Homo sapiens: one gene and its partners. The protein of the gene in region 4 interacts with the protein of the main gene of each other region in a biochemical or structural test. Each region holds a gene or a part of one and is shown on either strand. Other genes may lie near its edges.

Region 1 (7,172 bases), 4.4 Mb from region 4:
AAACCTGAAGAGTTGCTCTTTGTCAAAAGACTAACCTGAAATCTAAATAAAAGGAAATATAATATGAATCCTCAATTGGTTGAAGTTAATTTTATTTTCTTACTAAAAGTTTACTTTTAAGTAAATGCTTTTTTTCTTCCTTTTTTTTTTTTTAGGAAAGCATTTAGTTACATTTAGTTTATCCAGCGTGTTATCAAAGGGTGCTATATAGTCTCTTCTGTTCTGAGGTCACTGCCTTAAAAATGTTGATGTATGTTAAGTGCTGGGCCAGGCACAGTGGCTCATGCCTGTAATGCCAGCACTTTGGGAGGCCGATGCAGGCAGATTGCTTGAGCCCAGGAGTTCAAGACCAGCCTGAGCAACATAGCGAAACCCCATCTCTACAAAAAATACAAAAATTAGCCTGGTGTTGTGGTGTGCACCTGTACCCAGCTACTCTGGAGGCTGGGGCAGGAGGATCACTTGAGTCCAGAAAGTTGAGGCTGTGATGAGCCATGATTGTGTCACTACACTTTGGCCTGGGCAACAGAGTGAGAGCCTGTCTCAAAATAAAGTAAAAAATAAAATAGTAAAGGTCTTAATGTATTATGGAAGAGCACCAGAATACATCAGAAAAGCCAAATTCAGGTCTAGGAACTGCCACTTTCTAGTTTCATAACCTTAAGCTAATCACTTTATTAATATGGCTTCAGTGTCCTTCAGTAAAATGGGAATGGTAATACTCTACCTTTGCAGGGTTGTTTAAAATCAAGTGAGGTAATTTATGTGGAAATGTTTTTATATAGTAGCATGTATATTTAGAAATCCTCTATTTTCTGTCAGTTCAATTTTGTGGGGAAGATTCTTGGACCACAAGGGAATACAATCAAAAGACTGCAGGAAGAGACTGGTGCAAAGATCTCTGTATTGGGAAAGGGCTCAATGAGAGACAAAGCCAAGGTAAGCTCACATTAGTGAGGCAAGAGGACATCCTAATGCCTTCTACTTGCCCAGAATGCAGTATGGATGTCTTATAGAGGCGGCAAGAATTTTGTATGTGTACAGAATGTGGCTCCTTTAAGTTTGCACTGGATGCAAGAGATTATACACCAAGTTAATTTACTTGGCTTGGCAACCCTGGAAGAGCCTAGGTGTGCCCTGGTGATAGTTTTCTTTTGGACTTTTTGACTGTGTAGTAATGGAAACAGCAGTAGCATGTTGCGCATTGGTAGGATTGTCTGTGAAAACTTGAAAGGGGAACTGAATATACTAAAATTTAGTCTAAAGCAGACAAAAGACGCTAAAATGCAAATAGCACACCCCCTTTTTTGTAACCTGGAAAAGTGAGAACAATAATGTGAGAGCAGATGAGTTTGAGGATTAGTTGGTTTGTTTTATAGCCGGTTTGGAATGTGAGGCTCACTAAAAGAATGTATTCCAAAAGGAACCATGAGTAATCCTGACTACAGAATCTAATGCGTCTTTTTTTTCCCCATGCCATAGCCGCGTACGCTGTGTACTCTGTGACAAGAAACTTCTCACCAAAACAGAATAGTCTTAGCCTTCTGGGGTCACCTTATTTGATGAGATATTCCTGCTACAGTCCAAAAACCAATTCTTTCAACCCTCCTTTTATGTAGTCTAATGGACACATGTTTGTTTTCTCAGGTCATTTCTTGCTAGATGCATATAGTTACGGCTGAAGTGTGTTCTAACTAATGAGATTTACATGAGCTTTTCTTCCCTCTGTCCTGACTTCTTTCTTCCCCTACCACTCCCTAGACCATATAAGCAGATAAGCAGAGCTCGTGGTGATTAACAGCTCTACCTGTGATTTAAAAACAAATGCTTGGCAAACAGCTATTATCTGAATAGACTAGAATTAAGTTTTTCTTCTTTATGCTTTTAGTAGGAGCTCCAATGGATATCTCAGGGATTTAAGACAACAATTAACTGTAAGCAGCAGACCATGTGCAAGTTTAGCAGGCTGTGCAAATTACTGTTCTTGAGAGTTTGTTTTACTTTTTTTTTTTTTCTTGAGAGGGAGCCTTGCTCTATTGCCCAGGCTGGAGTGCAGTGGCTCACTGCAACCTCCACCTCACGGGTTCAAGCAATTCTCCTGCCTCAGCCTCCTGAGTAGCTGGGATTACAGGCGTGCGCCACCATGCCCGGCTAATTTTTGTATTTTTAGTAGAGACGGGGCTTCATCACATTGGTCAGACTGGTCTCGAACTCCTGACCTTGTGATCCTCCCGCGTCAGTCTCCCAAAGTCCTGGGATTATAGGCGTGAGCCACCGCGCCTGGCTGCTTGTTTTACTTTCTTAAACTTTACTGTTTTTCTTTTTTCTTTTTTCTTTTTTTGTTTAATTCTTCTCAGCTCATACCAATTAACTTTACTGTTTTTCATGGACATTAGGGGTATTTCTTGCTGTTCCTTTGGCTTAGAGGTAAAGGTGGTGTTTTCTCCCTAGTCCATGGTGTGACATTTCTCTGCATTTTTCCATAGGAGGAAGAGCTGCGCAAAGGTGGAGACCCCAAATATGCCCACTTGAATATGGATCTGCATGTCTTCATTGAAGTCTTTGGACCCCCATGTGAGGCTTATGCTCTTATGGCCCATGCCATGGAGGAAGTCAAGAAATTTCTAGTACCGGTAAGGAAATCCATATCCTGTGTCTTCTGAGCAAAAGAGAACTGGGATCTTATACTGTTGTGAAGGTAGGGGTTCTTAACTAAGGTCTCTGCATAACCTGTATGTATACCAAATTCTGCACTTATGTTCATTTTCCTTAGGTAGTTCGTTACTTGCACCTAGTTCTCAAAGCATTATGCTCCAAGGCCACTCTATCCCTCCTTGTCTAATGTGGTTTTCATTGTGTACCGGTATCTTGTCAGTATCTCGGGTCCACAGTGTGCCTGCATTCTGATATTTGGTTAACTAAGGTTTAACAGGGTCTTCACCTAGCTGAGTATTTTGGTAGTAGTGTGGAACAAGGAGATTGTGTTAGGAAAGTGACTAAGGTGGGTCTCTGCACTCAAGAAGTTCATGCTGTAGAGAGTAGAGACTAGCAGCAAGAAGCTTATAGCATCTAGTGTTATTGGGTTAAATTCTGACCTGAGCACACTCAGGGATTTCTTTCCTGGAGGAGTTTGCTGAGGACGAGTTTAGTTTGGAAGAGGTTGACTATTGATGTTTAACAGATAGGTGAGCAGCTTTTTTCAGACTATTACTGAGGACTAGATAGAGATGGGACAGGCCAGTTTATCTATCTTGCTTGTTACCACCTTTGAATACTTGGTTGGAATATTACTTTGAATAAATAGGAAATGGTACTATTTTTGCCTTTTAGCAAGGCCTGGTGGTTGTCAGAGTTAACATACTACTGTTGAATATTTAATAACAAGGATGAATCTGGAGACTTATGAAGGATTTGGAATATTATTAAGTAGAATTGAGTAAGCGTCATGTGTTCATCAGAAAACTAGGAGGAGGTAAGATACAGTCCTTGGTTTTCTTGAATGTTAAATGAGGGAATTAGAACTAAATGTGGTGTCAGATGATGTGAAAATTGATAGGGCAAAAATTTATAGGCAGTGTGGGCCAGGCACGGTGGCTCACGCCTGTAATCCCAGCAATTTGGGAGGCCGAGGAGGGCAGATCACCTGAGGTCGGGAGTTCGAGACCAGCCTGACCAACATGGAGAAACCCTGTCTATTAAAAATACAAAATTAGCCGGGCGTGGTGGCACATGCCTGTAATCCCAGCTACTAGGGAGGCTGAGGCGGGAGAATCACTTGAACCCAGGAGGCAGAGGTTGCGGTAAGCTGAGATTGCACCATTGGACTCCAGCCTGGGCAACAAGAGTGAAACTCCATCTCCAAAAAAAATAAATAAATAAGTTTTTAGGCATTGTGTACCCATAATGCTGAACTCCAAGGATTCCAACAGTCTCAAATGTCTTAGCAGCTGCTTTGCTTTCAAGTACCTCATCTTCATTAGAATGTTCAACATGAGGCAGGGCGCGGTGGCTCACACCTGTAATCCCAGCATTTTGGAAGGCCGAGGCGGGTGGATCACGAGGTCAGGAGATCAAGGCCATCCTGGCTAACATGGTGAAACCCCGTCTCTACTAAAAATTCAAAAAAAAAATTAGCTGGGCGTGGTGGCAGGCGCCTGTAGTCCCAGCTAATCGGGAGGCTGGGGCAGGAGAATGGTATGAACCCGGGAGGCGGAGCTTGCAGTGAGCCGAGATTGCGCCACTGCACTCTGGCCTGGGTGACAGAGTGAGGCTCTGTCTCAAAAAAAAAAAAAAAAGAATGTTCAACATGAAACAGACCATTTAACATATCCTAGAGAAAAACACAGCTGGTTAATAATCTTAAGGAAATTCTTTTTACTCTTTTTGGGGTGTTCTATTGATCACCCAAGCCATTCAATTTCCAAAGGACTGCAGAGGGAATGCCCATCTCCTCTCTTCATTGTTAGTCTCCCTCATATTCCTCAGAAGGGTTAGGTTTATGAGGCTTGCTTGTAAGTGAATCTTTTGAAAAAGATGCTTGCCGGGGAGATGTGGGTTTCCTCAGTGTTGATGTGGCAGTTGGAGGAGTCTGAGCAATGGTCTGGCATTGGTTACTTGATTCTCCAAGGTGTGAGTCTCAAGCAGCGGTAATGTGTAAGGTAGGAGGAGCTAGAGAGTTGAGGGGGGCATCAAAGACTAGCATCATCTATTGAAGCTGTATACGCCTGGGATATATAAAAATGCATGAAGTATTAAGACTGAATGGCTCTCAATAGGAAGTGTGAAAAGATTTGCCAGTGGCATTTGATTTTTCCCTCTTGTGGAGGAAAGAAAAGTGAGGCTATTTTTGCATCTGTGACCAGAGCCCTCCATTTTCCACTTAGAACAATTAACTATACCAGCAATGCTTCACAGTGCCGTAGGAAGAGCACTGGACTATGTATGTCTGTCTATCTGTGTCTTCCTGAACAGGTTATCATTTCACTTTTCTGAGCTTCAGGTTTCTTGTTCGTCCCAAACATTTCTTAAGTATCTGTCAGATGTCTGATACTATGCTTGGGTGTAAAGTTACAAAAATGGCTCCTAAAGAGCTTACAGTTTAGTGACAGACAATTCTAAAATTATGTGGTAAGTGCTTGGGTATAGGGAATTATGTGGTACTTTGAGAAAAGAGGAGTTGTAGGGGTGGCATCAAGAGAAAGTTTTTCAAGAGACACTTATTTAGGCAAGTCTTGTAAGGATGAATTAAGAATCCCTCAGGTGGACAAAAAAGACAGTATAAGGACAAAAAAGCCTGTTGATCCAACACCTAGATTTTGAGACAGGTAATTCTGAATTCACATCTAGAGTCTGCCATTTATTAGCTCTGTGTTCTTAAGCTGGTTGATGTATACTCCTTGAGTCTGTTTTCTTAACTGTAAAATGTGGAGATCTGCCTACTTATTTCAGGGTCATTTTGAAGATTTTTTTTTTTTTTTTTTTTTTTTTTGAGATGGAGTCTCTCTCTTTCGCCCAGGCCGGACTGCAGTGGCGCTATCTTGGCTCACTGCAAGCTCCGCCTCCCGGGTTCTCGCCATTCTCCTGCCTCAGCCTTCCGAGTAGCTGGGACTACAGGTGCCTGCCGCGCCCGGCTAATTTTTTTGTATTTTTAGTAGAGATAGCGTTTCACCGTGTTAGCCAGGGTGGTCTCGATCTCCTGACCTCGTGATCTGCCCGCCTCGGCCTCCCAAAGTGCTGGGATTACAGGCGTGAGCCACTGCACCCGGCCCTCATTTTGAAGATTAAACTGAAAAATCTATATAAAGCTTATTATATAGAGCCAAGTGCATACAGCTCCATTAATGGTAGTGGCTTTTATTATTCCAGGAAAAGGAAACTATTTGCAAAGAATGGATATGTAAGAGTATGCCAGGCTCTGAACTACAAGTTGTTCAGTCTGGCTTGTGAGTAGGTTATATATAGAGAGAGAATGGAAGTGATCCGGAGAGCTAGGCAGAGACCACATTATGAATAATGAGGGGTCTACCATCAAGACTTTTCTCAAAGAGGTGACAGATAGGGTGCCATTTGACTTCAGAGAAGGAATGACCTGAGACCTCATCTGGGCTCTCAAGAGCTCTTCTTAGAATTCAAGTCTCCCGTGGACCAGATGATTTCTCAGTAGAAAGTGTAGATACCACACAATACTCCTTGTATCTTTCGTTCCCAGGATATGATGGATGATATCTGTCAGGAGCAATTTCTAGAGCTGTCCTACTTGAATGGAGTACCTGAACCCTCTCGTGGACGTGGGGTGCCAGTGAGAGGCCGGGGAGCTGCACCTCCTCCACCACCTGTTCCCAGGTAAAAATAATGGAGACACCCAGAAATAGGATGTGAATTTGACTACTAGTGTCATCTCTTTTAGTGGTGCTCTTATGTCTAGCTTAGGAAGGGTCTCAGGATTTGTATGTTGCATAAAGAACAGAATTCTACAACCATACTCTCACACCTGTAATCCCAGCACTTTAGGAGGCTAAGGCAGGCGGATCAACTGACATTTGGAGTTTGAGACCAGCCTGGCCAACATGGTGAAACCCTGTCTCTACTAAAAATACAAAAATTATCCAGGTGTGGTGGCATACACCACACTACTCAGGAGGCTGGGGCAAGAGAATTGCTTGAACCCAGGAGACGGAAGTTGCAGTGAGCCGAGATCATGCCACTGCACTTCAGCCTGGGAGATAGAGCAAGACTCCATTTCAAAAAAAAAAAAAAATAGAGTTCTAGATCTTGGGCACTTTGACCATAGCCAAGTGCTGCAGTCTAGCTGAAACTTTTGGTCTTCTAATTTTGGACAGTCTTAGCATTTGTTAATGGTCTGACTTTAAAATTCTACCTTTTGTGACTGACCTTTATAGAGTATTCAGACTCTCCAGACCTACCCAAGGCAGTGCAGTGATGAATTGGTCCTCTATAGGACCTGGGGGATCTTGCAGTGTGGGTCCTTTACCCTGTACATTCCTCTGTGCTTTAATAATAGCCTAGTTAAGGCTTCATAAAATCTGCCTAATTCCAGAATTTGTAAACAAATCAGAACATAAAAGTGGCCTGTTTATAAAAAGCTCCATTTAAGATAAACTTTCATTTTGTAGGGGCCGTGGTGTTGGACCACCTCGGGGGGCTTTGGTACG
Region 2 (7,172 bases), on a different chromosome or scaffold from region 4:
AGCTGTATTTTCAGGCTGACTTGTTAAATATTGGCTGCAAAAATTCTTAAGGGCATTGATATCAGATAAAAAGCTCTGTGATGTGATCTCGCTGCAGACATTGCATTGCAAGCACTCTGGTCTTCTGTGAGGGAAGGGTACCAACCAGCTCCACTTGGGGGTGCAAGGAAAAGAGCAACGCAGAAAGGGGGAAGCCCCCAAGAGACATGAAGTCTTTAGAGAGAGCCTCTTGATGGGGTAAATGCGAGCAGAGACCTGGGACAAGCTGGCTTTTCATACCCTCACGGATTTCTGCCACTCAGCAGTTGAGTAACAGTCCTCCTCTGGCCACCCTATTCTAGATATGATTAAACAGATTTCTTGTAAAAGAACCAAACTATTTTCCTTTGTAGGAAAACAACAGAGACAGAGAGGAAAACAAAACAAGGATCCTGATGACTGACTGCAGGAGGCAGAGAAAGCCAGGATCCCTGGTCAGATTTTACCGAAGGAGAGGAGAGTCCTTCCTCGTCTACAGTCCTCCACCTCCCAAGCCAGAGTCCATTTGGAGTTTGTAGAGGTGCCAAGAGAAGAAAAATAGAGTCCATAGCAGGACAGCAAAAACTATTGTCAGGGTTTCTGAAAACTGTACCATGGAGTCTGAAAAGAACTATAGGCTATGGACTAAGAATAGCAAGGCCAGCCCTCAGTCAAGTGGACTTTCCCACTGTCCTACCACAGAGTGATCAGCGGCTCACACAAGCTAATGACACATTTAGGAATTAAGAGCGTCAATGCATACTAGCTGTCTGATAAAATTCCATCTCTTCCCTTATTTCTCTCTTTTTTCAACTTTGGCTTTCTAGGACTTATGTTCTAGCTTCAGTAAAACACTCAAGCTAGCCAAAATATTGGCAAGGAGCTCCTATGGCAGAAGTGCTCAGAGACTGATCAGGATGTGTGCCTGATCTACCCTTACCATACACCTAGGAACACAGCTGGGCCCAGAACCTAGGACTTTCACTCTATGACTTATTCTTGCTTCAGACTTAACTTACATCCTTCTTGGGCATATATTCCTTCTAAGAGGGCTATGTGTTGAAAGGACATAGGCCTTCGATCTATTATGGCAAAAGACATGGAAGACATGCATGTTGACAGACAAGCCTCTCTTATGTCAACCCTGTTTTGCTACTGAAGCTGGTCTGAGTTTAGAATCCCTTACAATTGTCTTTCAGGAAACCATGACCAGTTGGTTCAAGTAAGTACAATACTGAAAATGAATTTCTTGTCTCATGCTGCCTCGAGGAGCCAAATGTGAGTTACAAGTCAAGAATATCAAATGGATGTGGGGTTGTATAGTAGAAGTGGGAGAAGGGCTCCCTGGGATGCTCAAATCTTATGCTGTAAAACCCTCTGGGAGTATGAAATCTCTTCCGATGCATCATCATTTTATGAGCAAAAGCAAAAGAGTCATACTTAATTTTATCTCTAGGCACCTACCTAGACCCACCAGGGGCCCCACTGGGGCAGGAGCACTTGTTTTGAAGAGATCCAGAGGGTTGGGCTGCAGGGCTGTAGGTTGTCCTGTGGGTGACGCCTGGCCTGAAGGTTCTGAGACGGGAGGAGCAAAGATGTCTGATGCAAGCAAGTCATTGGCTGAAGACTGACAGGACAGGGAGGGAGGGAGAAGCCTTAGTTACTCACTAACAGTGAAATACAGCCTCATTTTGTCTCCTACCCTATACCCCAATTTGAGAGCCACAAAAAGGAAAACTTTTTTCTTGACAGATGAACAACAACAACTACTACTACAGAAAAAGAGTCCTCCAAAAAAAGACACAGATTCCTACAACGGACGGACTACTGAGTCTTAGTGTCTGACACTACCTAGGACTTGCAAAGTGAAATCTACTATATTCCTTTACACACTCACATTGGTCTGGTCTCATCGCTAAATGCTTGAAGTTGGGGGAGCAAGTGTGTAAAAGGGGCAACTACCAATAAGCATCCTAAATATTTTTGTTCATTCCATTGGATTTTAAGTCAGTCTACATAGAGATCATAGGGTCTTAATCCAGGCAAGCCTGTATATTCTTAGGAGAGGTAAAAAAAGACACCTATGGGAACTGCATTTTAAATTGCTCTTAAATAAAGCTGAGATCATAGTGGTAATAGTAAATACATAAGCTTAGAAAAAGCTTATGTATTTACTCAGTATTTAAAAGAGGAGATAAGCTCGAGAATTTTATACCACCACCATGGACACTGATGCAACATGATGGGTGTGCAGGGCATGTGTTAGTGTCAGGGAAGTACAAAGGGAATCACAAGAACTCTCACCCTCCCAACCCAGAACACGATGATCAAACTTACCAGAGGTATAGAAGCATAGCAGCATTAAAAATGGAAAAACTTGTGTTTAGTTTAATCATAAGTGACAAGACATGCACACGGAAAGCAGGGTGTGAAAAACACTGCTGAGAAGCTTAAAAACGGTGGCAGTTAGAGGAAAGTACTCCTGGAGAACCAAAGTGCCTTATCCCACCTTCTATTTCACAGCAACACAGGAAACTACGAGAGCAGCAGGAAAGAGAGCTTGCATCACACCACCCTTTGGTACCGAACATGCACTCTGCTAATGGATATGTGGAGAAGACAATTCACCTTAGCAGTCCTTCTGCCTCTTCCTGGTTTGGTACTTTGTGGAGGTGGGATAATGGCTATGGAGTCATGTGGTGAGGACTGGACAGAGCTTTCCAAGTCCTGCTTTACGCCATTCTGTATGGACAGTCCTTTGGGAGGGCTTCCCACAAAAGGGTTCGGGGAGGATTTGACAGAGAAGCCGTTCTGTTCTCTTTCAGATACCCCATTTTGAGTTCTCACTGCTGGCTGGGTTTGCGAACTTGAAAAGGGCCATGGGCCTGCCTGAGCTTCCTGTTTGCCAGTCCGGTTAGAGATCTGGTCAAATTGCTGACCAAAGTAGTCAACATCACCATTCAGGGGCCCATTACTCAGCGGAGTAGACGAGCTACTCGAATTCTCTTTCTTCTGATCTGGAGATTTGAGAGAATCAAACGAAGAAGGTGTCGATTGGTCTGGCTGTGTGAAAGGATCGTCACGGAAAGGATCAGGATTAGGGGTGGGAAAGAAGTTGAGATTGGCAGAAAAGGCATTTTCAGGCAAGAAGGATGCCTGAGGCGTTGGTCGAGGAAGAGAACAGGAGGTGATGCCGTTTGTTAAGAATGGATTTTCTCTTAAAGAATTCTGATTGGTGTCGATTTCAGAGTTTAGATCCACTAACAGGATATCTTTGCTTTCCTATCACATTTGGAAAGAAAAAAAAAGAAAGTGTTAGTCCATGTTGTGACTTCAAATGAGAAAATTACATAAGATGACTAGGATTATCAGAATTTCCATTTGAATTTGGTCTTGATAAATCGGTTGATCATTACCTCCTTCCATCAACCCCCGTAGTCCATTACTCCCTAGCTATAGACTAGGTCCTTTCTATTCCTCCCCAATATCATGCCCTTTTATTTAAGTCTCAACCTCATTAGGTGAAATCTTACTGTTGCTTACTTCATGTCTCTGCTCACCCTGGTTCACACATACAGACTGGCTTAATTCATTATGAGCATTGTTTCAATTTGTGACTTTGAAAGTCTTAAAGGGAATTGATTGTGAGTCACTATAAATGATTATCAAAGTATGTTGAGCTTGAAAGTAAGTGATTTCAGAAGCTTAGCTCAGCTTCCTACCTATACACATACAGTCCTCTCTATTGTACCCCCAGAGTCATGTAGGATCATCTCTCTAAATGAGAAAATTCATCGACTAATACATTCATATTTTATAGTTCTGGCTGTGATGAAATTTAAGATCAAATGCATTTCCCTAAAATCGGTCCAGTTCTTTCCTCTAGAGGTGGGAGAGAGGCTTTTCTTTTATATCACGGCCTTCAGGTATGTCTCTTAATATTTAAGGCTCTTGCTGAAGCTGATAGTCAAGTAGGATCTCATCCTCATCATCCCAGTCTCTCCTCTGGGCTTACCCTTTTTGTCTATGTCCTCTGAAAGAGACACTCAATACTGATCTAATTTAGTCAATCACACATTAAGATCTCCTATTTGTACATCTTTTCATAACATTGCTTAGAGTTGCCTGTGTTGTGACAGTAATCTCATCTATTTAGTGGTTAAAGTCAACCAACAACTGATCTTTAATTTATATACAGTAGTCCCTCCTTATCCTCAGGGAATATGTTCCAAGGCCCACAGTGGATGTCTGAAATGGCACATAGTGCCAAAACCTATATACAGTATTTTTCTCATATACATACACATGATAAAGTTTAATTTATCAATTAGGCACAATAAGAGATTAACAAGTAATAAAATAGAATGATTATAACAATATGCTGTAATAAAAGTTATTTGAATGTGGTCTCTCTGTCTCTCTTCTCTCAAAATATTATATTGTACCGTACTCACTTATTTTCAGACCAAGGTTGACCACAGACTTAATTTCAGAAAGTGAAACTGCAGATAAAGGGGGACTATTGTACAAGGTAGAGACATGGGTTTAAGAGTTAATTTGAAAGACATATCAAATATGTAGCTCTACTAATTCTATCCCCTCTCTATCATTTCTCTGGTGTGTTAATTTTTTGGATTTTCAACTGTTTGATAAAAAATTCTCAGCTTAAAAGCAGTAAATTTGATGAATCCGACATGTCTTTATTCCAGTAAAAGACAGAATTATAACTCATCCTAGAACAGAACTTTCATACTGACATCACTTCCTTCTGCTTGACTTTGATCCATTAAATACTTAACTATGCTACCCAGAGAAGAATATAAATGATAAAAAATGCCTTGCTGAAGTGCAAGTTATAGTAGTTATCTTGCATTACCCTGAGCAGAATACTAAATATTTTGATCATTGGGGAAAATAAACAACTTCAAGGGAATATAAAATTTGCAAACTAGTAAATACAAAAGGGTTCAAATAGAACTCCTTGGCTTTTAAAAGAAAAAAAAATACCCAATTGTTTAGAAAGTTTAAGTCCTATTTCATGGCCACAAAAGAGACAGCAAAATCAGACCTAAATGGTAATCTATCTTTTGGATTCCTTTACTGTGAGGCATAAAAATACAGTTTTTATAAGCCAAAGCCAGGCTTTCTCTTTATAAAAGAAGAATTTGTCACAAGAAAGAGCTTATAATTAAAAAAAAATTTAATCAGAGAAATGGATTGGAAGAGCTATTAATCTAGGGATCTTTATACAATCAAAAGGTAGGATAAAATGTATTACAAAAGCTTGTGATTTCAATATTTATTTATTTGTTTTGAGCCACCTCTGGGTTAGAACAGTTGAGTGTTCACAGCTGGTAGAGTTCTCGTTTTCAAATACTTCAGAAGAAGTTCTTAGGACACCAAACAGGAGCCACAATGTTAGACTTCTGAATAGTCACCCTATAAGTAAAATGTATAAGGCTCTCCTCAGGCTGGGTTTGTTATTAATCCAAGATTAAAAGTGTAGTTCACAGACTACAACTGAGAGCCCAAAGACTCCTCATCCACCCACTTGGTCAGCGCCTCATTCATTCTTTGTCGAACTGTCAACACTGCCTCCAGTTGGCCACTGTTTGAGCACCTGAGCCGCACGCACTGGAGACACGGCAGTGCGTTACAGAACCTGCTCGTAGGGAGCTCCAGTAATCGGACATAAATCCTGAGTTCCATAGCCTAGCTCTTCTCTGGGTGGCTAATCTCACCTAACCATTCCAGTTTGTCAGACTGAGGACTTCTCTACTCAAAGCCTTAAGTGGCTTACTGCTGGCTCCCTATATTAAAATAAACCTCCTTAGGCCAAATTTCCAAATGATCCACAATAAGACCCACGTTGTTTCTAGCCCAACTATGATCTATTTTCCTACACACTTCAAAGACCCAACTCAAATTCAGATTCTTTACAAAGCTTTTAGCATCGATTTTTCTGTCTGCACTTGCCCTGTGCCCACCCGTGTTATCTTATGGCATGTACACAAGGACATAAGTGACACTCCTGCTTTGTATCCTGATCCCATCCCTTGTACCAGATTTAATCTCCTTGATCACAGATCATGTCTTATATTCTTTCCATAGTAACTGTGCTTTCAAGTGGTTGTTAAAGTTGCAGAACATGGGTTTTTATGTTTTTCTTTCTTTTCCTTTTTTGAGATGCAGTGTGGAAGGATAATGCTCAAGGGGCTTGCCAATAAAAATTCTGTTCTAGGGGATACCACATAGTTTGCAACATGAGCATTATTTGAAACTCATAAAACTTTTCTGTATAAATTTGAGGGGAGTGACAACCATCTAGGACCAATAATAAAGTCTAGGTAATTTAGATTTCTTTCTCTCTTTACATATTTCAGAGCAATTGTTGAAAGAGTTGAATATTTTTAAACATGCTGGCTTTACCAAGTAGAGATAAATCTATTTTTGACCTATGACTATAGAGTCAATAGATAAGAACATGTCAAAGCCTAACCAGCACATAATTAGATCTGTTAGCCTTCTTTTGGTTATCAGAGAGTATATATTTTGATGGTATTTATTACTTTATTGTTAGTTTAACTAAAACTTGAATTCCTATAAATAAAAAATTCTTAGACTTCATAAAGTCTAATAAAAATGAGACTGAAGATTATCCATGTTGTTTTCCATTTCCTTTTTTAGAACATTCTAGAAGTCTACAGAAGTAGATTATATAGGCAGTACTTCCTTGCCTATTCCAGTGGAATTCCACTTCATATCTTGAGTGCTTTGCTCTCTTTGAATATTACTTGTTTGAATGTCATTTATACTTGGGAAGTAAGTGTTCAGATACTGATTTATTTGAGAAAACATCACTAATGGAGGAGAGCACAAAGTTGACTACAAATCAAAAGGACCTCAGAGTTAGGATGGACCTGTCAGGATAATCTAGTCTAGTACTTTAAAAAGTTTATCCTCAGAACTATAACAAAAATTATGAAGAATGAAAGGTTCTATAGGCAAGTGAGTTAGGGCTCACTGCTAAAATGAATATTAAACAGGCTTCTCTCTTAAAGGCATTTTAGAATGCTACCATGCATTGTGATACTCATATGGTTAGGGTCAGAGAAGAATGCATGAAGTCCCTGCTCCTCTCCATCTCATTTGAC
Region 3 (7,000 bases), on a different chromosome or scaffold from region 4:
TTGTTCAGCTGCTGCTTTGTGTATGGTTCCACGGACTGGATCTGGGTCTTACCTGTCACAGGACATGGGAAGGAAAGATCATGGAACCTACAGCTAGGTCATCTCAGAGAAAACTGCCCATTTTTTCTTTCCTCGAAGGGGAAAAGACTTAAGCCACCCTAGTGTTGAGACCCTGAACACCCTGTTCAGTGGCCTGGCACTGTGGAAATATTCAGGCTGGCTTCTAATTAAGAAGAGGCTACTAGTTGGGTCATAGAAAATAAACTTGAATATAACTACTTGCGTAAGATATATTAACAGGGTTAAGTAGAAAAAGAGATGAAGAATACAATTTAAATTGCAAAATTCTCAACAAATAGTCACTGGAGCAAGCAAAACAAAGCAAACCAATCCTTCAGCTGGAAGGATTTAGAAGTCACGCAAATGTGTTTTGCGAGTCTGAGTGAAACAGGGAGTCAAGGCCATCTCCACCCACCAGGGGGCAGTAGGTGCTTGCAACTAGAAGCAGTGATGAGGCCTCAGCAGCCACCAGCAGGTGGGGTGGGTGGGAGCCTCCCTTACCGCTGATGTCCTTCTCCACCCAAGTGAAAGTGACGCCTCCTTCTTTGCTGCTTTCACTGAATCTTAGCAGGAAGGTGCCTGGAGGCTTAGTGCTCAAGATGGCCCGCTCCCGCTCCTTACTGATAAAGCCCATGATGTACCTGGAGCCAAGGAGGAGGAACAATGTTGTTATTGCTAACAGGGCATCCATCCCCTGCCACTGGCTTGCTGAGAGCAGGGGACTTGGTTACATCTGTGCACACTCTGTCCAACCTACCCTTCGTTCCAAAGGGCCAGGATGTACTTTTTCACAAGGTCAATGATATTGTCCAGCCAGACCCAGAAGGAGAAGCCCTTGCCAGCCATGTTTTCCTGGAGAAAAGAGTAATGGGAAAGCCAAGTCTACTGCCATCCCAGCCCTTCCCTTCCTAGGGGTGCAGTGCATCACCCAAATCCTCAGGCCCGTCTACCTTCAGGCAGGTCCTACTGGCCGCTGGACCAAGAGTTCAGGGCCTTCAAGCCAGAGCCCTCAACGACAGCCGTGCAGGTGAGCATTCCCATTCCCACGAGAATTTAACAAGATTGCTTACTTTGCAAAATTTAGCCCATGTGATCTGACACCCTGAATAATTCACACCAGGTCCTGAAGGAAAGAAAAAGAGTCAAGTAGTACATTTTCAGCTTGGGGTCAAGAGGTTATTTCTTAAAACAGAACACACACACATTCATCCCACAATGGGCCACAAAATAATCAGCTTTCACATCTTTGAAGGTAGGCACTGTTGTGTGTGTGCACATGAGGACAAACACTATCCCATCATTTGACTCACTTGTGTTGCTGGGTAGCCCAGCAGGGATGGAGGGTGATATAACAAGTCCCCCTGCTCTTCCCAACCTCGGGTGGTAGGCTGGGAACCAACAGCAGCACTCACTAACAAGCTGACATCGGGTGTCAGACAGGTGTATTTGGTGGCAACAGCTTTATTAGAACAAAGCTACTTCTAGCCCAGGTGGCACATAAAATATTCCACTAATTCTTTTTTAAAAACTAGCCTACGCTGGGCACAGTGGCTCAAGCCTGTAATCCCAGCACTTTAGGAGGCCGAGGTGGGCGGATCACGAGGTGAAGAGACGGAGACTATCCTGGCCAACATGGTAAAACCCCGTCTCTACTAAAAATACAAAAATTAGCTGGGCGTGGTGGTGAGCACCTGTAGTCTCAGCTACTCGGGAGGCCGAGGCAGAAGAATCGCTTGAACCCAGAAGGCGGAGGTTGCAGTGAGCCGAGATCACACTACTGCACTCCAGCCTGGGCAACAGAGCAAGACTCGTCTCAAAAAAATAAATAAATAAATAAAATAAGACAAAAAAAACCAACTAGCCTATAGTTTATTAAAAAAATGGACAGGGAATGTCAAGCCTTTAGTGCCACCTTCCAACACACACTTAAAAGATCTTCTAAAGTTAGATAGAGTGGGTGAATGAGACAGCAACCAGGAGAAAAGAAATCTACCTCCCACCTCAAAAATGATCACCTCGACTGAAAACTGCAAACTGTCTCTGCACCCCAACTCCCCAACTCCCCTGTTTCCTGGCACCAGCACAGCGCCTTGCTCAGGAAAGAAACATGGCCTAATGCTCAGTAGACATGGCCCAAATGAACAGCCCTATGGGCCGGATCCCTTTTCTGGGCGGGTGGGCGGGAGGGAGAAGGGGTGAAATGCGGACCCAAGAGTTTCTCTGCCAGTGTAGTCAGCTGCTCGATGCTCAGTCCTCGCTTGGTGGTGGAGGAGAACTGCCAGCTCAGGACCTCGGCCACTTGATCCCAGGTTCCAATTGGGGGCTTGGTAAAAAAGTTTACATTCTATTGGAAAGAACACATTTGCTTGTTTAGATGAGGGATGGTGCTCATTGTCTATACTAGGTACCCCTAAGTCGCAAGAGATCCCGGGGCACCAACTAAAAGGAGGGGGCACTAACCTTGGGATTGTTGGTCAGCATGTTGTACCACAGGATGGACGCCCAGGCATTTGGCATCTGACAGATGTTGGAGATCACCACAACTGGCAAGGAGTGGGTCTGCGGAGGGAGTGGGGACTGAGCTGGGGAGGCAGAGGGGCTCTCACAGCCTTGGAAATCTCTTCACCCGCATCTCACGGGGCTCAGAATGAAAGGACATGCCATAAACCACACCTGCTGCCAACTCTAGGCGAGGAGTGTGAGTGAGTCAGCTCAGTGAGCACTCATAGTGGAAAGAATGCCCAGCGTGGCCACACAACTCAGGCTGCAGTCGGAATATACCGGTCCCTTGTAAAACCTGACTTGCTCAAAGCTTGACTCACAATCCACAGATTCCCCATTTTTAAGACCTTGGAGGCATTCTCCAAGACTTGAAGCTGTATCTTCACATGAAACAGGGAGGTCTCAGGAATCAAAGACCAGGATTCCTGCTTTTCTAGGTATATCTTAATTTAAAAATCAAGAAAGTTGGGAAAGGAGAATGTCATTGCCACAATTTTCTGTATACTAAACACACTGGCTGCTAAGACTCTTATGCCCAAACTTTATAAAGTCAGTTCTAATTTCTTTTTTTTTTTTTTGAGACGGAGTCTCACTCTGTCACCCAGGCTGGAGTGCAATGGCACAATCTCAGCTCACTGCAACCTCTGCCTCCCAGGTTCAAGTGATTCTCCTGCCTCAGCCTCCCGAGTAGCTGGGATTATAGGCGTCCGCCACCATACCCAGCTAATTTTTGTATTTTAGTAGAGACGGGGTTTCGTCATGTTGGCCAGGCTGGTCTCGAACTCCTGACCTCGTGATCCACCCGCCTCAGCCTCCCAAAGTGCTGGGATTACAGGCGTGAGCCACCGCGCCCGGCCAATCAATTTCTAAATAGAGATTTTCATATCAAGTTTGCTGAAAGCTGAATATACACACATCTTCTAAGCATTCAAGCAAGACTTTATTGCCAGATGGGATGCCAAGGATTTTTTTGGAGAAAAGTAAGCAAAAATAAACACAGTGTTAAGCAAACAGTAATCATTCCACCTTCTCTTGTAAAAATCCCAGTGGAAGTTTTTGTCCTGAGTCACCCCTGTACGTAGCCTCTCACCGATTCTGCTGCAGAACTTACCTCTAGGTCAATCTTGAGGCCTTGGTGATACACCTCGGTCTCAAAGGTGATCAGGTGCAGCTCCTCAGTCACAATCAGGGAAGCCTACAGTAACGAGAAGGACACTCTTAGGCCAGGTGTGGTGGCTCATGCCTGTAATCCCAGCACTTTGGGAGGCCAAGGCAGGAGGATTGCCTGAGCCCAGGAGTTCGAGACCAGTCTAAGCAGCACAGCAAAACTCCATCTCTGCAAAAAATACAAAAATTAGCTGGGTGTGGTGGTGCACACCTATAGCCCCAGCTACTCGAGAGGCTGAGGTGGGAGGATGGCTTGAGCCTAGGAGATGGAGGCTGCAGCGAGCTATGATTGTGCCACTGCACTCTAGCTGGGGTGACAGAGTGAGACCCTGTCTTAAAAAAAAATTAAATTAAATAAAAAAAAAGGCTGAGCGTGATGGCTCACACCTACAATCCCAGCATTTTGGGAGGCCGAGGCAGGTGGATCACATGGTCAGGAGTTCGAGACCAGCCTGGCCAATAATTTGGTGAAACCCCGTTTCTACTAAGAATACAAAAATTAGCTGGGTGTGGTAGTGGGCGCCTGTAGTCCCAGCTACTCAGGAGGCTGAGGCAGGAGAATCGCTTGAACCCAGGAGGCAGAGGATGCAGTGAGCCGAGATCACGCCACTGCACTCCAGCCTGGGTGACAGAGTGAGACTCTGTCTCAATCAATCAGTCAATCAATAAAAAAGAGAAGGACACTTTTCCTCAGAGAGAATGGCATTCAGTACTAACAGCCACAGCCAAGGAAAGTGACATGCCAAGCCTCACCACACCAAGAAGGGTAAGCCACCAGGTGGTCACAAACAAACTGCCAGGGACACAACTTGCTCGGCACTTACTCTCTTCAACACCAAGAACTTCCAATGCTGTGATCCTCAACCTAATCCTTTACTCAGTTTGTATTATAATATTACATAGATCCAATTGGTTATTTGTAAAATACGTAAGGCACAAAGAATAACAAAACAATATGAACCCACCATTCAATTTAAGGAAAAGTCCATCACTCCTAAAATTCTCTGGGTGCCCTTCCCCAACCCCATCCCCTTCCCTCCTCCCTCAGAAATAACTGCTATTTTGTCTTTTGGGTTTATCATTTCCTAGCCCTTTTTGTCTTGTTTTGTTTTGTTTTTTTACAGTTTTACCATATTTGTTTATCTAAGCAATGCAGGTATTGTTTAGTTTGGGACATTTGTGAACCTTACACTTATGGACTCCAATGAATTCTTTTGGGATTCACTTTTCACTTGATGTGAAATGAATCCACATGGTTATGTGTATCTGCAGTGTATTCCTTTTCACAGCTGCGGAGTATTCCATTGTGTCTATACCACAAATAATGTATTCATTCTAATGTTGATGGGTATTTATTTGGGTTGCATTTAGAGCTTATAATCAGGCTGATGTCCACTTTATATATGTCTCCTGGGACATATATGCAAAGATTTCTCTGCTATTAAATCCTGGGAATGGCACCGTTGGTTTACAGGTATGTTCATTTTTATACTGCCAAATTGTTTTCCAAACTGACTACAACAATGTCTCACATCAGTACAGCAACCTTATTTTAAGTAAGAGTTGTCAATGAATTCTCAAAAATTGAATTCTAGTCTGGGCACAGCGGCTCATGCCTGTAATCCCAGCACTTTCGGAGGCCGAGATGGGTGGATCACGAGGTCAGGAGTTCAAGACCAGCCTGACCAATATGGTGAAACCCTGTCTCTACTAAAAATGCAAAAATTAGCCAGGCGTGGTGGCATGCACCTATCGTCCCAGCTACTTGGGAGGCTGAGACAGGAGAATCGCTTGAACCTAGGAGGCAGAGGTTGCAGTGAGCTGAGATCGCACCACTGCAATCCGATAGAACGAGACTCCGACTCAAAAAAAAAAAAGAAAAAAGAAATTAAATTATAATTCATTTTTAATACTATTTTTCTGATTATAAAAGTAATATATTCAGTTTAAAATGCAAATATCACAGAGACAGTCTAGAATAGCCATGGATACCAACAGCAGCACTAATACACATAGCACTGCTGGTATATTCCTCCAGAATTTCTTAATATACATATGAATACACATAAGAGTATAGTGTATTTTTAAAACACATATACTAATAATACTATTCAAATTATTTTACATTTTGCTTTTTCTTAATATGTCATGTACATTTTCCCATATCATTGCATACAGGCTACTTCACTCTACTGTCAAGTAAAATTCCACATTTTTAAAAAGGACTGCTACATTTTATTTTATTTATTTTTTTGAGACAGAGTTTCACTCTGTTGCCCAGGCTAGAGTGCAGTGGCAAAATCTTGGCTCACTGCAAGCTCCACCTCTCAGGTTCAAGCGATTCTCATGCCTCAGCCTCCCCAGTAACTGGGACTACAGGCGTGCACCACCACACCCAGCTAATTTTTGTATCTTTAGTAGAGACGGGCTTTCACCATGTTGGCCAGGCTGGTCTTGAACTCCTGACCTCAAGTGACCAGCCTGCCTTGGCATCCCAAAGTACGGGGTGTGAGCCAGCACGCCCAGCTAGGACTGCTACATTTTAAAGAGGAAGAATTGTTCAGGGGACAAATGTAAGAAAAAGAACGGGGCATCACAATTTTTAAAAATGACTGAAAACTAGCCTTCCGTCACATTTACCTTTTTTTGTTTGTTTGTTTAAAGTTTATTCTTGACAATAAGAATCCAATAATCTGAATCAATGAAAAGCAGAAAATAAGGGGGATAAAGAACAAGATGGGTTTTTGTTTGTTCATTTTATTTTATGTACTCTTTTCCTAAGCAAGCTAATGCAAGGTGGTCATTTATTTTAAAGTTTAACTCAAATCTGTTGCTTTTACACCCTCTATCCCACCTCAGTGGGAGAGAAAAACAGGGCACTAAAAATGGAGCCAAGCAGGGTCAGCCGCAGGAGCTGGATGGGGAATTTGGAAAGCCCCAGGCAAGGTGGAAAGCTGCTTTATACCACATGGGTGTGGAGAACAACTCAGCAAGGGACTTTCCACTTCTCCTTAAGGAGGAGCCAACTCCCAGATATTCACGGAAATGTTCCAAGCCAGAGAGCTCCATGGCACATGGAACTTCTGTTCATGTCACTTTGGCCTGAAGTGACTTTTTGGAATAACTACAGCTGAAAGAACAGGTTGATGTTTCTAATTCTGGGGATTAAGAAGGATCTTTACCCCTCTCTCCCTCAAGGAAAACACCCCAGTTGTCTTTCATCCCCAACAAAACTTACATCACAATTGGCTCGGCCCCCATTCCCACATCT
Region 4 (7,769 bases):
AGTCCTCTCACCGAGACCCTCCACCTGGCTGAATGCCAGTGCCTTTGCTGAGGCCCCCACTGCTCATTAACTCCCTTTCTTTCTTTCTTTGTTCTTCTTCTTCTTCTTCTTCTTTTTTTTTTTTTTGAAACAGTGTCTCATTCTGTCGCCAAGGCTGGAATGCGATGGTTCGATCTCGGCTCACTGCAACCTCTGCCTCCCGGGTTCAAGCAATTCTCCTGCCTCAGCCTCCTGAGTAGCTGGGATTACAGGCGTCTGCCACCATGCCCAGCTAAATTTTTGTATTTTTAGTAGAGATGGGGTTTAGTCATGTTGGCCAGGCTGTTCTTGAACTTCTGACCTCAGGTGATCCACCCACCTCGGCCTCCTAAAGTGCTGGGATTACAGGCGTGAGCCACCGTGCCCTGCCTTCATTAACCCCCTTTCATCTCACACCATCCTTTCTTGAGGCCTCGAAACTGCCTCCTGAAGAAGACATACCCACCCAACCCTGTCTGACTCCACCACCACCGTGGTGAGGCCAGGTGTGTGCAGGATCGGGGGTGGCCTTTACCCTCCATGTGGTCCCGAGGCCATTAGCAGTTTTTTCCACTTCTTGTGGGTAAAAGTGGTTTTCCACCTGTTGCTGAAAACCACCCACCAGCCTCTAAAACACAGCTCTTTAGATGCCATCTGGCCTGGGACTCAGGATTTTCAGGAGATGGAAGCCATGGCGGCGGGGGGCGGGGGTCCAGGGGCAGCCAAGGGATGGGAGTCTAGATTTCACAGTGTGGCCAGACAGGAAGCCCCCTCCCTGGTCCCTCAGGGGAGTGGGGCGGTGAGGGGGACATCCTGCCTTTTCCCACCTTAGGTCAGCCCAGTCTGCTCTGCGTGGGAAGAGCCCTGGCCCCTACTTCCCCAGCTCTGGGGTTCCCTACCCAGCCTCCTGAGGTCTGGCCACTTCCTTTGCCACATCAGCCCCAGGTGGCTGCAGAGATCACCCAAACATCCACTCATATGCTCAAGGGTTCATGCTCATTCACTCAGAGCCCAAAACATACAAACACTCACACCCTCACTGGAGGAGGGTGTGAGAGCACCTACTCACTGGAACAGGAAGTAGTCATGAAGCCCCTAAACCCCACACCCTCCTCCCCGGAGGGTACATGAAACTTGGTAGGGATGAGGTAAGGATTCAGGCCTCAGCTCAGGCTACATCAGAGACGAGATGTCCTGGAATTCTGGTCCCTACTGTTGGCCCTGCAGGTTGCCAACTCCCAAACCTCCATCTTCCCATCTGTGAAGTGGGAACAGGGTCCTGCTCTCCCATCATCACCACAGTCGGAAGGATGCCAAGGACATCAGGGCCCCTGAGAGTACACACCCGAGGGGCGGCCAACTGGATGCAGCACCAGAGAGGGTGTGAGACAGATTTTAACTCTGCTGACCTCCCCAGTATGGGCTCTCATCAGAGCCATAAACTATTTAGACGCCAACTGTGTGCTGGTCCCTGGAGGCCCTGTCAGTGAGAGCCGGGCAGTCTGGTCCCCCTCCATGCTTTTTGTTGTTGTTGTTGTTTACAGACAAAATCTCACTCTCTCATCCAGGAGCTCTCACTGCAGCCTTGAACTCGTGGGCTCCAGCGATCCTCCGGCCTCAGCCTCTGGAGTAGCTGGGACTACAGCAGGTGCCACCACTTCCAGCCTTCTGGCTAACTATATTTTTTTGTAGAGACAGGACGGGGGTCTCCCTGTGCTGCCCAGGCTGGCCTCCTCTGCATGTTTTTGAGAAGGTGAAGGGGAGGCTCGCTGAGTCAGGGATAGCCCTTAACCCTTCAGGACACTCAGCAAAAACTGCTTTCTGCACCTGATTCTCGTGGGGGAAGAGTGGACACAAGGATCATTTCTCACCATAGTTCAGATGAGGAAAGTGAGGCCCAGAGAAGCCCTGTAACTTGCCCACAGTCACACAGCAATTAAGGGCCCAGTCTTGCTAAGAACCCAGGTCTCTCAAACAGCAGATCCTCCACCCCAGGATCCCTGAACACAGCGGCATCGCCTCCTACCTCGGTCGGGAAGCCCACCCCCCACCCACCAGACCGAGGATTCCAAAAGGGGGCGAAGGCGGAGAGCAAAGGGGGCTGCGCCCACCCGGAGCCCCGCGGCGGCCCAGCGCGGCCCGCCCTCTCGTTGCCTTGGAGGCAGCCCCTGCGGGCACTCGCGGTCAAAGGCAGGATTTCCGTCGGGGCGGCAGCAATTCCCGGATCCAGCGGGGAGCGCGGGCCGAGACCGCCGCGGGCGCGGAGGGGGCGCCCGGAGAGGCCTGTCCCTGCCGAGGGCGGGGACTTCCCCAGGAAGCGGGGACCCACGCCTCGCGCGCCCGGCAGGAGTCCCCTGCAGCCCGGAACCTACCGCAAGGGCGGGCCGAGAGGGTCGCGGGGCCGCGGTCGCGGCCGCTAACGTTACCCTGCGGGCTGTGGGCTTCACCCCGACTTCGGCCGGCTCGGAAGAGGGGAACTTCCTGGACCCGCAATTGCACCCCAGGTTCTCCGTCCTCCAGAAGTCGTTCTCCTCAACCCCCTTCCCGCCAGCTCCCTCTCCTGTTCCCTCCAGCACCCCCACCCATTTCCCCTCTCCTGGACCCATCAGACCCGTCGGCTTCTCCCCAAAGTCCCACTCTCACGATCCCTTCAGTTTCTCCCCCAGACCGTCCTGGGGATTCCCCTTAATCCTTCTCCCCCACCTCAGCCCCCTTCCTAAACTCTTATCAGTCCCCTCCATTTTACCCACTAGACCTTTTTGGGGGTCCCTTTGGTCGGCTTCCCCCGTGCTCCCCTCCGCCCTCTCCTCCAGGTTTATCAGCCTTGCTTTTCAGGTCGCCCGTTTTCCTCCTTAGGCCTTTTCGGGCTGGGGTCCCTTTGGCTGTCACCTTGCTCATGTGTCCCCCGACCCCCAGGTTCAGGCTTCTCTTCCCGTGTACCCCCAGTCCTCTCTCCAGAGCCTCGAGGGGGAGGGCACTGCTTGACCTGCCCAGTCCCCACCCGACGCTGTCGCTTACCTGGAGCCCAATTCTGCCCGGCCCCGGGGTGAGCCAGCCGGGGCTCCAGCAGCCGCGAGTGCCGGCGTGCGGGGAGAACTGGGGTGCTGCCCGCCTCTGACCGCCGCCCCTGCTGGGCAGGGAGGAGGAAGCCGCCTCGGACTTCTCTTATTGCAGTCACGGCCGGCGGGCGGTGATGGTGGCAGGGAGACAGTCACGCCCTAGCCCCAAGCCAGCTCCCCGCAGCGAGGAGGCGCCCCCAGATCCTAGGCCCACCCGCCCCCACCTTCCTCCTCCCTGGTTTACGGGAGGTCGGCTCTGTCACCCTCCAGACCTGAGTCCCCAGCCCGGCCTTCCCAAAAGCCCCCTCCAAAAGCGCAGTTTCAGCACCCCCGAAGCACCTGCTCTTTTAGGATCATTGAATTGGAGGTTAAGAGGGGCTTTTCTCCATCACTGAGGACCAGATCGGGACTGGCCTTACTCGAGTTCTCACAGCCAGTTGACTTCAGACTGCTGTCACCAGAGCCACTGGACATGGATCACATGGACCCTGTCAGCACGCCTTCCCTTCCTCAGGGGCTGAGCACTGGGGACACAGGGCTGTTAAGGGTGGTGAGCAGCAGAAGACCCTTCCCTTAGGAAACTGCCTTTCAGAGGAGTGGGAAGGGTGTCAGCCTCCCCCAGGCACCCAAGTTTTAGAAAAACTGAGTAACTGGCTGGGGGCAGTGGCTCAGCCTGTAATCCCAGCACTTTGGGAGGTTGGGTGGGAGGATTGCTTGAGCCCAGGAATTCCAGACCAGCCTAGGCAGCATAGGGAGACACCATCTCTACCAAAAAAAATTTTTCTTAAGTTAGCTCGGTGTGGTGGTGTGCACCTGTGGTCCCAGCTACTGCAGAGGCAGAGGTGGAAGGATCCCTCGAGTCAGGCAGGTCGAGGCTGCAGTGAGCTGTGATTGAGCTACTGCACTCTACCTTGGGTGACAGAGCAAGACCCTGCCTTAAAAAAAAAAAACACAAAAAAAGAATGTGGGTTTTGTTGCAGAAAATGACTTTTTTTAAAAAAAAGAAAGAAAAGGCCGGGTGCAGCGGCTCACGCCTGTAATCCCAGCACTTTGGGAGGCCGAGGCGGGTGGATCACGATGTTAGGAGATCAAGACCGTCCTGGCTAACACAGTGAAAGCCCATCTCTACTAAAAATCAAAAAATTAGCCGGGCGTGGTGGCGGGCGCCTGTAGTCTCAGCTACTCAGGAGGCTGAGGCAGGAGAATGGTGTGAACCCGGGAGGCGGAGCTTGCAGTGAGCCGAGATGGCGCCACTGCACTCCAGCCTGGGCGACAGAGCGAGACTCCGTCTCAAGAAAAAAAAAAAAAAAAAAAAAAAGGAAGAAAAACTGAGTATCTTAGAACATGTGGAAAAAGATTTTTAAAAACAAAAAGAGAAACGGTAGCATCCTCTATCAGTTCCAGTCTCTCTGTCTGATAGGGATCCCTGACCCCTCCTCAATCTGGGGTTCAGTCCCCACTCCCACCACTGTTACTTCAGCCTTAAAGCAAGAACCCGGAATATCCCTCCTGTCCAGGAGAGGAAGAGGTGTGGTGGGGAGGGCTGTTTGGTGGAGAAGGATGTGTCTGTTGGGATGTGGTGAGAGGCAGGGAGAGTGTGCGTAAACACAGAAGTGTGTGTGTGTGTGTGTGTGTGTGAGAGAGAGAGAGAGAGAGAAAGCAATGACATGATGACTTTGCTTTTGGAATCAACAACTAGGCCATGGTGTGCAGGCAAGTGTGTTTCTTTGTATGGGCAGGGGCATGTGGGGATGTGTGTGTGCATGCGTACACATGCTCAAGTGTGGCCCAATGTGCCTGGGGTAACAGAGTGGTGGGATGGAGATAAGAATGCTTTTCTCTTAGGAAATGGGAGGAGGGATGAGGAGGAAGACAGAGGAGCCAGTGGCAGTGCAGGGTCTCTGGAAGAGTGGCTTCACCCTAGCCGGGCAGCATCACCTCCGCCATCAAATGCTCCCTGCCTGGCCATCGGCCCACATGTTCAATTAGCAAACAAGCAAACGTTTATAATTGTGTCTTAGGTGCCAGCCTTAGGGAACACAGAGATGAGAGACTGGTCCCTGCTCTTGGGGGATCCCCCCAATCTATCATGCTCGCTCTGTCATCCTTCAAGGTCTGACTCACAAGCATCTGCTCTAGAGGCCTTCCCTGATTGCTGCCTCTACCCACTCCACACCCCCAGCAGAACCTCAGCATCTTCTGCCTGGGGCACCACTGGTTCCTGGGGGATGGGTGTGTGGGATATGTTTTCCTCAAGGGCAGGGGTCTGGCTCTTGTAGATGCCTCCAGTACCCACACAAGGCCCAGCACACAGTAGCAGGCTTTCTGTGTATAGGAACACGTGAATCAACCAAAGGACAAAGGAATTAACAGATGAACAAAGGAAAGCCCAGTGAAAAACTAAATAATGGAAGGTAAGAAAGAATGAATGAAGAAATTCAAGAATTGATGACTGAATAAGCAAATGAATGGAAGAACAAAATGACAACATTGCTTCTCAGGCCGGGCTCGGTGGCTGACGCCTGTAATCCCATTGTTTTGGGAGGCTGAGGCGGGCGAATCACTTGAGGTCAGGAGATCGAGACCAGCCTGGCCAATTTGGTGAAGCCCCGCCTCTACTAAAAATACCAAAATTAGCTGGGTGTGGTGCCGGTGCCTGTAATCCCAGCTACTCAGGAGGCTGAGGCAGGAGAATCGTTTGAACCCAGGAGGCGGAGGTTGCAGTGAGCGGAGATCACGGCACTGGACTTCAGCCTGGGCGACAAAGCAAGACTCCGTCTCAAAAAAAAAAATTGCTTCTACTTTTTAAAATATGTGTTGGGCCACATTAGTCCCTTGCTTAAAATCTCCCAGTGCCTTACCTTTCATTTTGCTTGGAAAAATAAAAATACAATACATACGATACCATAATAATAAAGAATAATAAAATCCAGCAGCTTTGTCTTGTCCTCTGAGGCCCTGTGTGCTTGGCCCCTGCCTCCTCTCCAGTCCCAGCTTTAGCCATCTTTCCCTTTACCCACATTTGGATCTTTTTCAGTTCCTAGAATACACTGAATTTTTGTCTCACAGTCTTTTTACATGGTGTTCCCTCTTCCTAGGATGCTCTTCTTCTTGCTCTTCACAGTACTGCTTCCTTTTTATTCTTCAATTGAAGTGCCGTCTCCTCAGGGAAGCCTCCCCTGACTGCCACATCTAAGAAGGTCTCCTTATTCTCGGTCTCAGCATCCAGTTTGTCTCCTCTATGGCTATCACAATCTGGAATTATATATTTCTGTGTTCATTGTTTTTTGTCTCTGGACCTCTCTAAACCAGATTAGGGCTCTGACCCAATCTGAGGTCAGGAGACAGCTGGCACTTCTTAGGACGAGCAAAGTGGATTCTATGCCCTCATTCATCCTTTCAGAATAACCTTGATTAGGAACACAGACTCTGGGCCCAGGCTGCCTGGTTTGCAGACCAACTCTGACCTTGGACAAGTTATTTCACCTTTTTTTTTTTTTTTTTTTTTTAGACAGAGTCTTGCTCTGTCTCCCAGGCTGGAGTGCAGTGATGTGATCTTGGCTCACTGTAACTCCCAGGTTCAAGCGATTCTCCTGCCTCAGCCTCTTGAGTGTCTGGGATTACAGGCGTGAGCCACCACACCCAGCTAATTTTTGTATTTTTAGTAGAGACAGGGTTTCGCTCTGTTGGCCAGGCTGGTCTCAAACTCCTGACCTCAACTGATCCACCTGCCTTGGCCTCCCAAAGTGCTGGGATTATAGGTGTGGGCCACCGCGCCCTGCCCAAGTTATTTCACCTTTCTGTACCTCAGTTTCCTCATATGTAAAATGGAAATTTAGTAGACCTCACCTCACAGAAGTCTTGAGAGAAATCAGTGAGCTGTTAGAGGAGTGTTTGGCACATAGTAAATACCACATAAGTGTTCACTATCATTCATTCATTCATTCATTCATTCAATTAAACCTCAACTCTCTGACCACAGTTTCCTATCCTTTCAGCCCATGTATTCACAAGCTCCTTGAAAACAATTCTAAGTCAGGTATGGTGGCTCACACCTGTAATCCCAGAACTTTGGGAGGCTGAGACAGGAGGATCACTTGAAGCCAGGAGTTCGAGACCAGCCTGGGCAGCCCAGGAGTTCGAGGCTGCAGTGAGCCATGGTTGTACCACTGCACTCTAGGCTGGGTGACAGAGCAAGACCCTGTCTCTAAATAAATAAATAAAACAATTCTAAAAACTGATACCAAAATCAAAAATCAAAGCCCAGCAAGCCCAATGAGACCTCTCTCATCCATTTCCCAGCTAGCCATCACTCTCCTCCTCTTCTCACTCCTGCTTTCAACCAGCCTAGATTCTGCTGTCAGTCCTTATGGTCATTCGTTGCAAAGACCTGGCACTGTCCGGCCTCCCTCTCCCTCCCTCTCCCTCCAGTGTACCTGCCTGGAAAACCCAGGCCTGCAGGAATCTAACCATTACCTTCTTTTTTTTTTTTTTTTTTTTTTGAGACAGAGTTTCGCTCTTGTTGCCTAGGCTGGAGTGCAATGGCACGATCTCAGCTCACCGCAATCTCCTCCTCCCAGATTCAAGCGATTCTCCTGCCTCAGCCTCCCGAGTAGCTGGGATTACAGGCATGCGCCACCACGCCTGCCTAATTTTGTATTTTTTTTTTTTTTGAGATGGAGTCTCACTCTG

The links.
Region 1: of the proteins of FGR (region 4) and KHDRBS1, one has a biochemical effect on the other in vitro, tested with the Homo sapiens proteins (2 studies listed by BioGRID, with this or other methods).
Region 2: the proteins of FGR (region 4) and DAB2 form a complex in vitro, tested with the Homo sapiens proteins (one study listed by BioGRID).
Region 3: the proteins of FGR (region 4) and STAT3 form a complex in vitro, tested with the Homo sapiens proteins (one study listed by BioGRID).

What each region holds. Positions count from the first base shown.
Region 1 is NC_000001.11:32,030,702-32,037,873, forward strand, and holds part of KHDRBS1 (KH domain-containing, RNA-binding, signal transduction-associated protein 1), read left to right. Parts: intron 1-822; coding exon 823-939; intron 940-2,486; coding exon 2,487-2,633; intron 2,634-6,208; coding exon 6,209-6,342; intron 6,343-7,133; coding exon 7,134-7,172. UniProt on the Homo sapiens protein: Recruited and tyrosine phosphorylated by several receptor systems, for example the T-cell, leptin and insulin receptors. Once phosphorylated, functions as an adapter protein in signal transduction cascades by binding to SH2 and SH3 domain-containing proteins.
Region 2 is NC_000005.10:39,379,972-39,387,143, forward strand, and holds part of DAB2 (disabled homolog 2), read right to left. Parts: intron 3,301-7,172; coding exon 2,647-3,300; intron 1,646-2,646; coding exon 1,483-1,645; intron 1-1,482. UniProt on the Homo sapiens protein: Adapter protein that functions as a clathrin-associated sorting protein (CLASP) required for clathrin-mediated endocytosis of selected cargo proteins.
Region 3 is NC_000017.11:42,322,443-42,329,442, forward strand, and holds part of STAT3 (signal transducer and activator of transcription 3), read right to left. Parts: coding exon 6,968-7,000; intron 3,758-6,967; coding exon 3,674-3,757; intron 2,620-3,673; coding exon 2,521-2,619; intron 2,405-2,520; coding exon 2,269-2,404; intron 1,184-2,268; coding exon 1,131-1,183; intron 913-1,130; coding exon 818-912; intron 702-817; coding exon 562-701; intron 53-561; coding exon 1-52. UniProt on the Homo sapiens protein: Signal transducer and transcription activator that mediates cellular responses to interleukins, KITLG/SCF, LEP and other growth factors. Once activated, recruits coactivators, such as NCOA1 or MED1, to the promoter region of the target gene.
Region 4 is NC_000001.11:27,632,029-27,639,797, forward strand, and holds the start of FGR (tyrosine-protein kinase Fgr), read right to left. Parts: upstream 3,158-7,769; 5' UTR 3,037-3,157; intron 1-3,036. UniProt on the Homo sapiens protein: Non-receptor tyrosine-protein kinase that transmits signals from cell surface receptors devoid of kinase activity and contributes to the regulation of immune responses, including neutrophil, monocyte, macrophage and mast cell functions, cytoskeleton remodeling in response to extracellular stimuli, phagocytosis, cell adhesion and migration.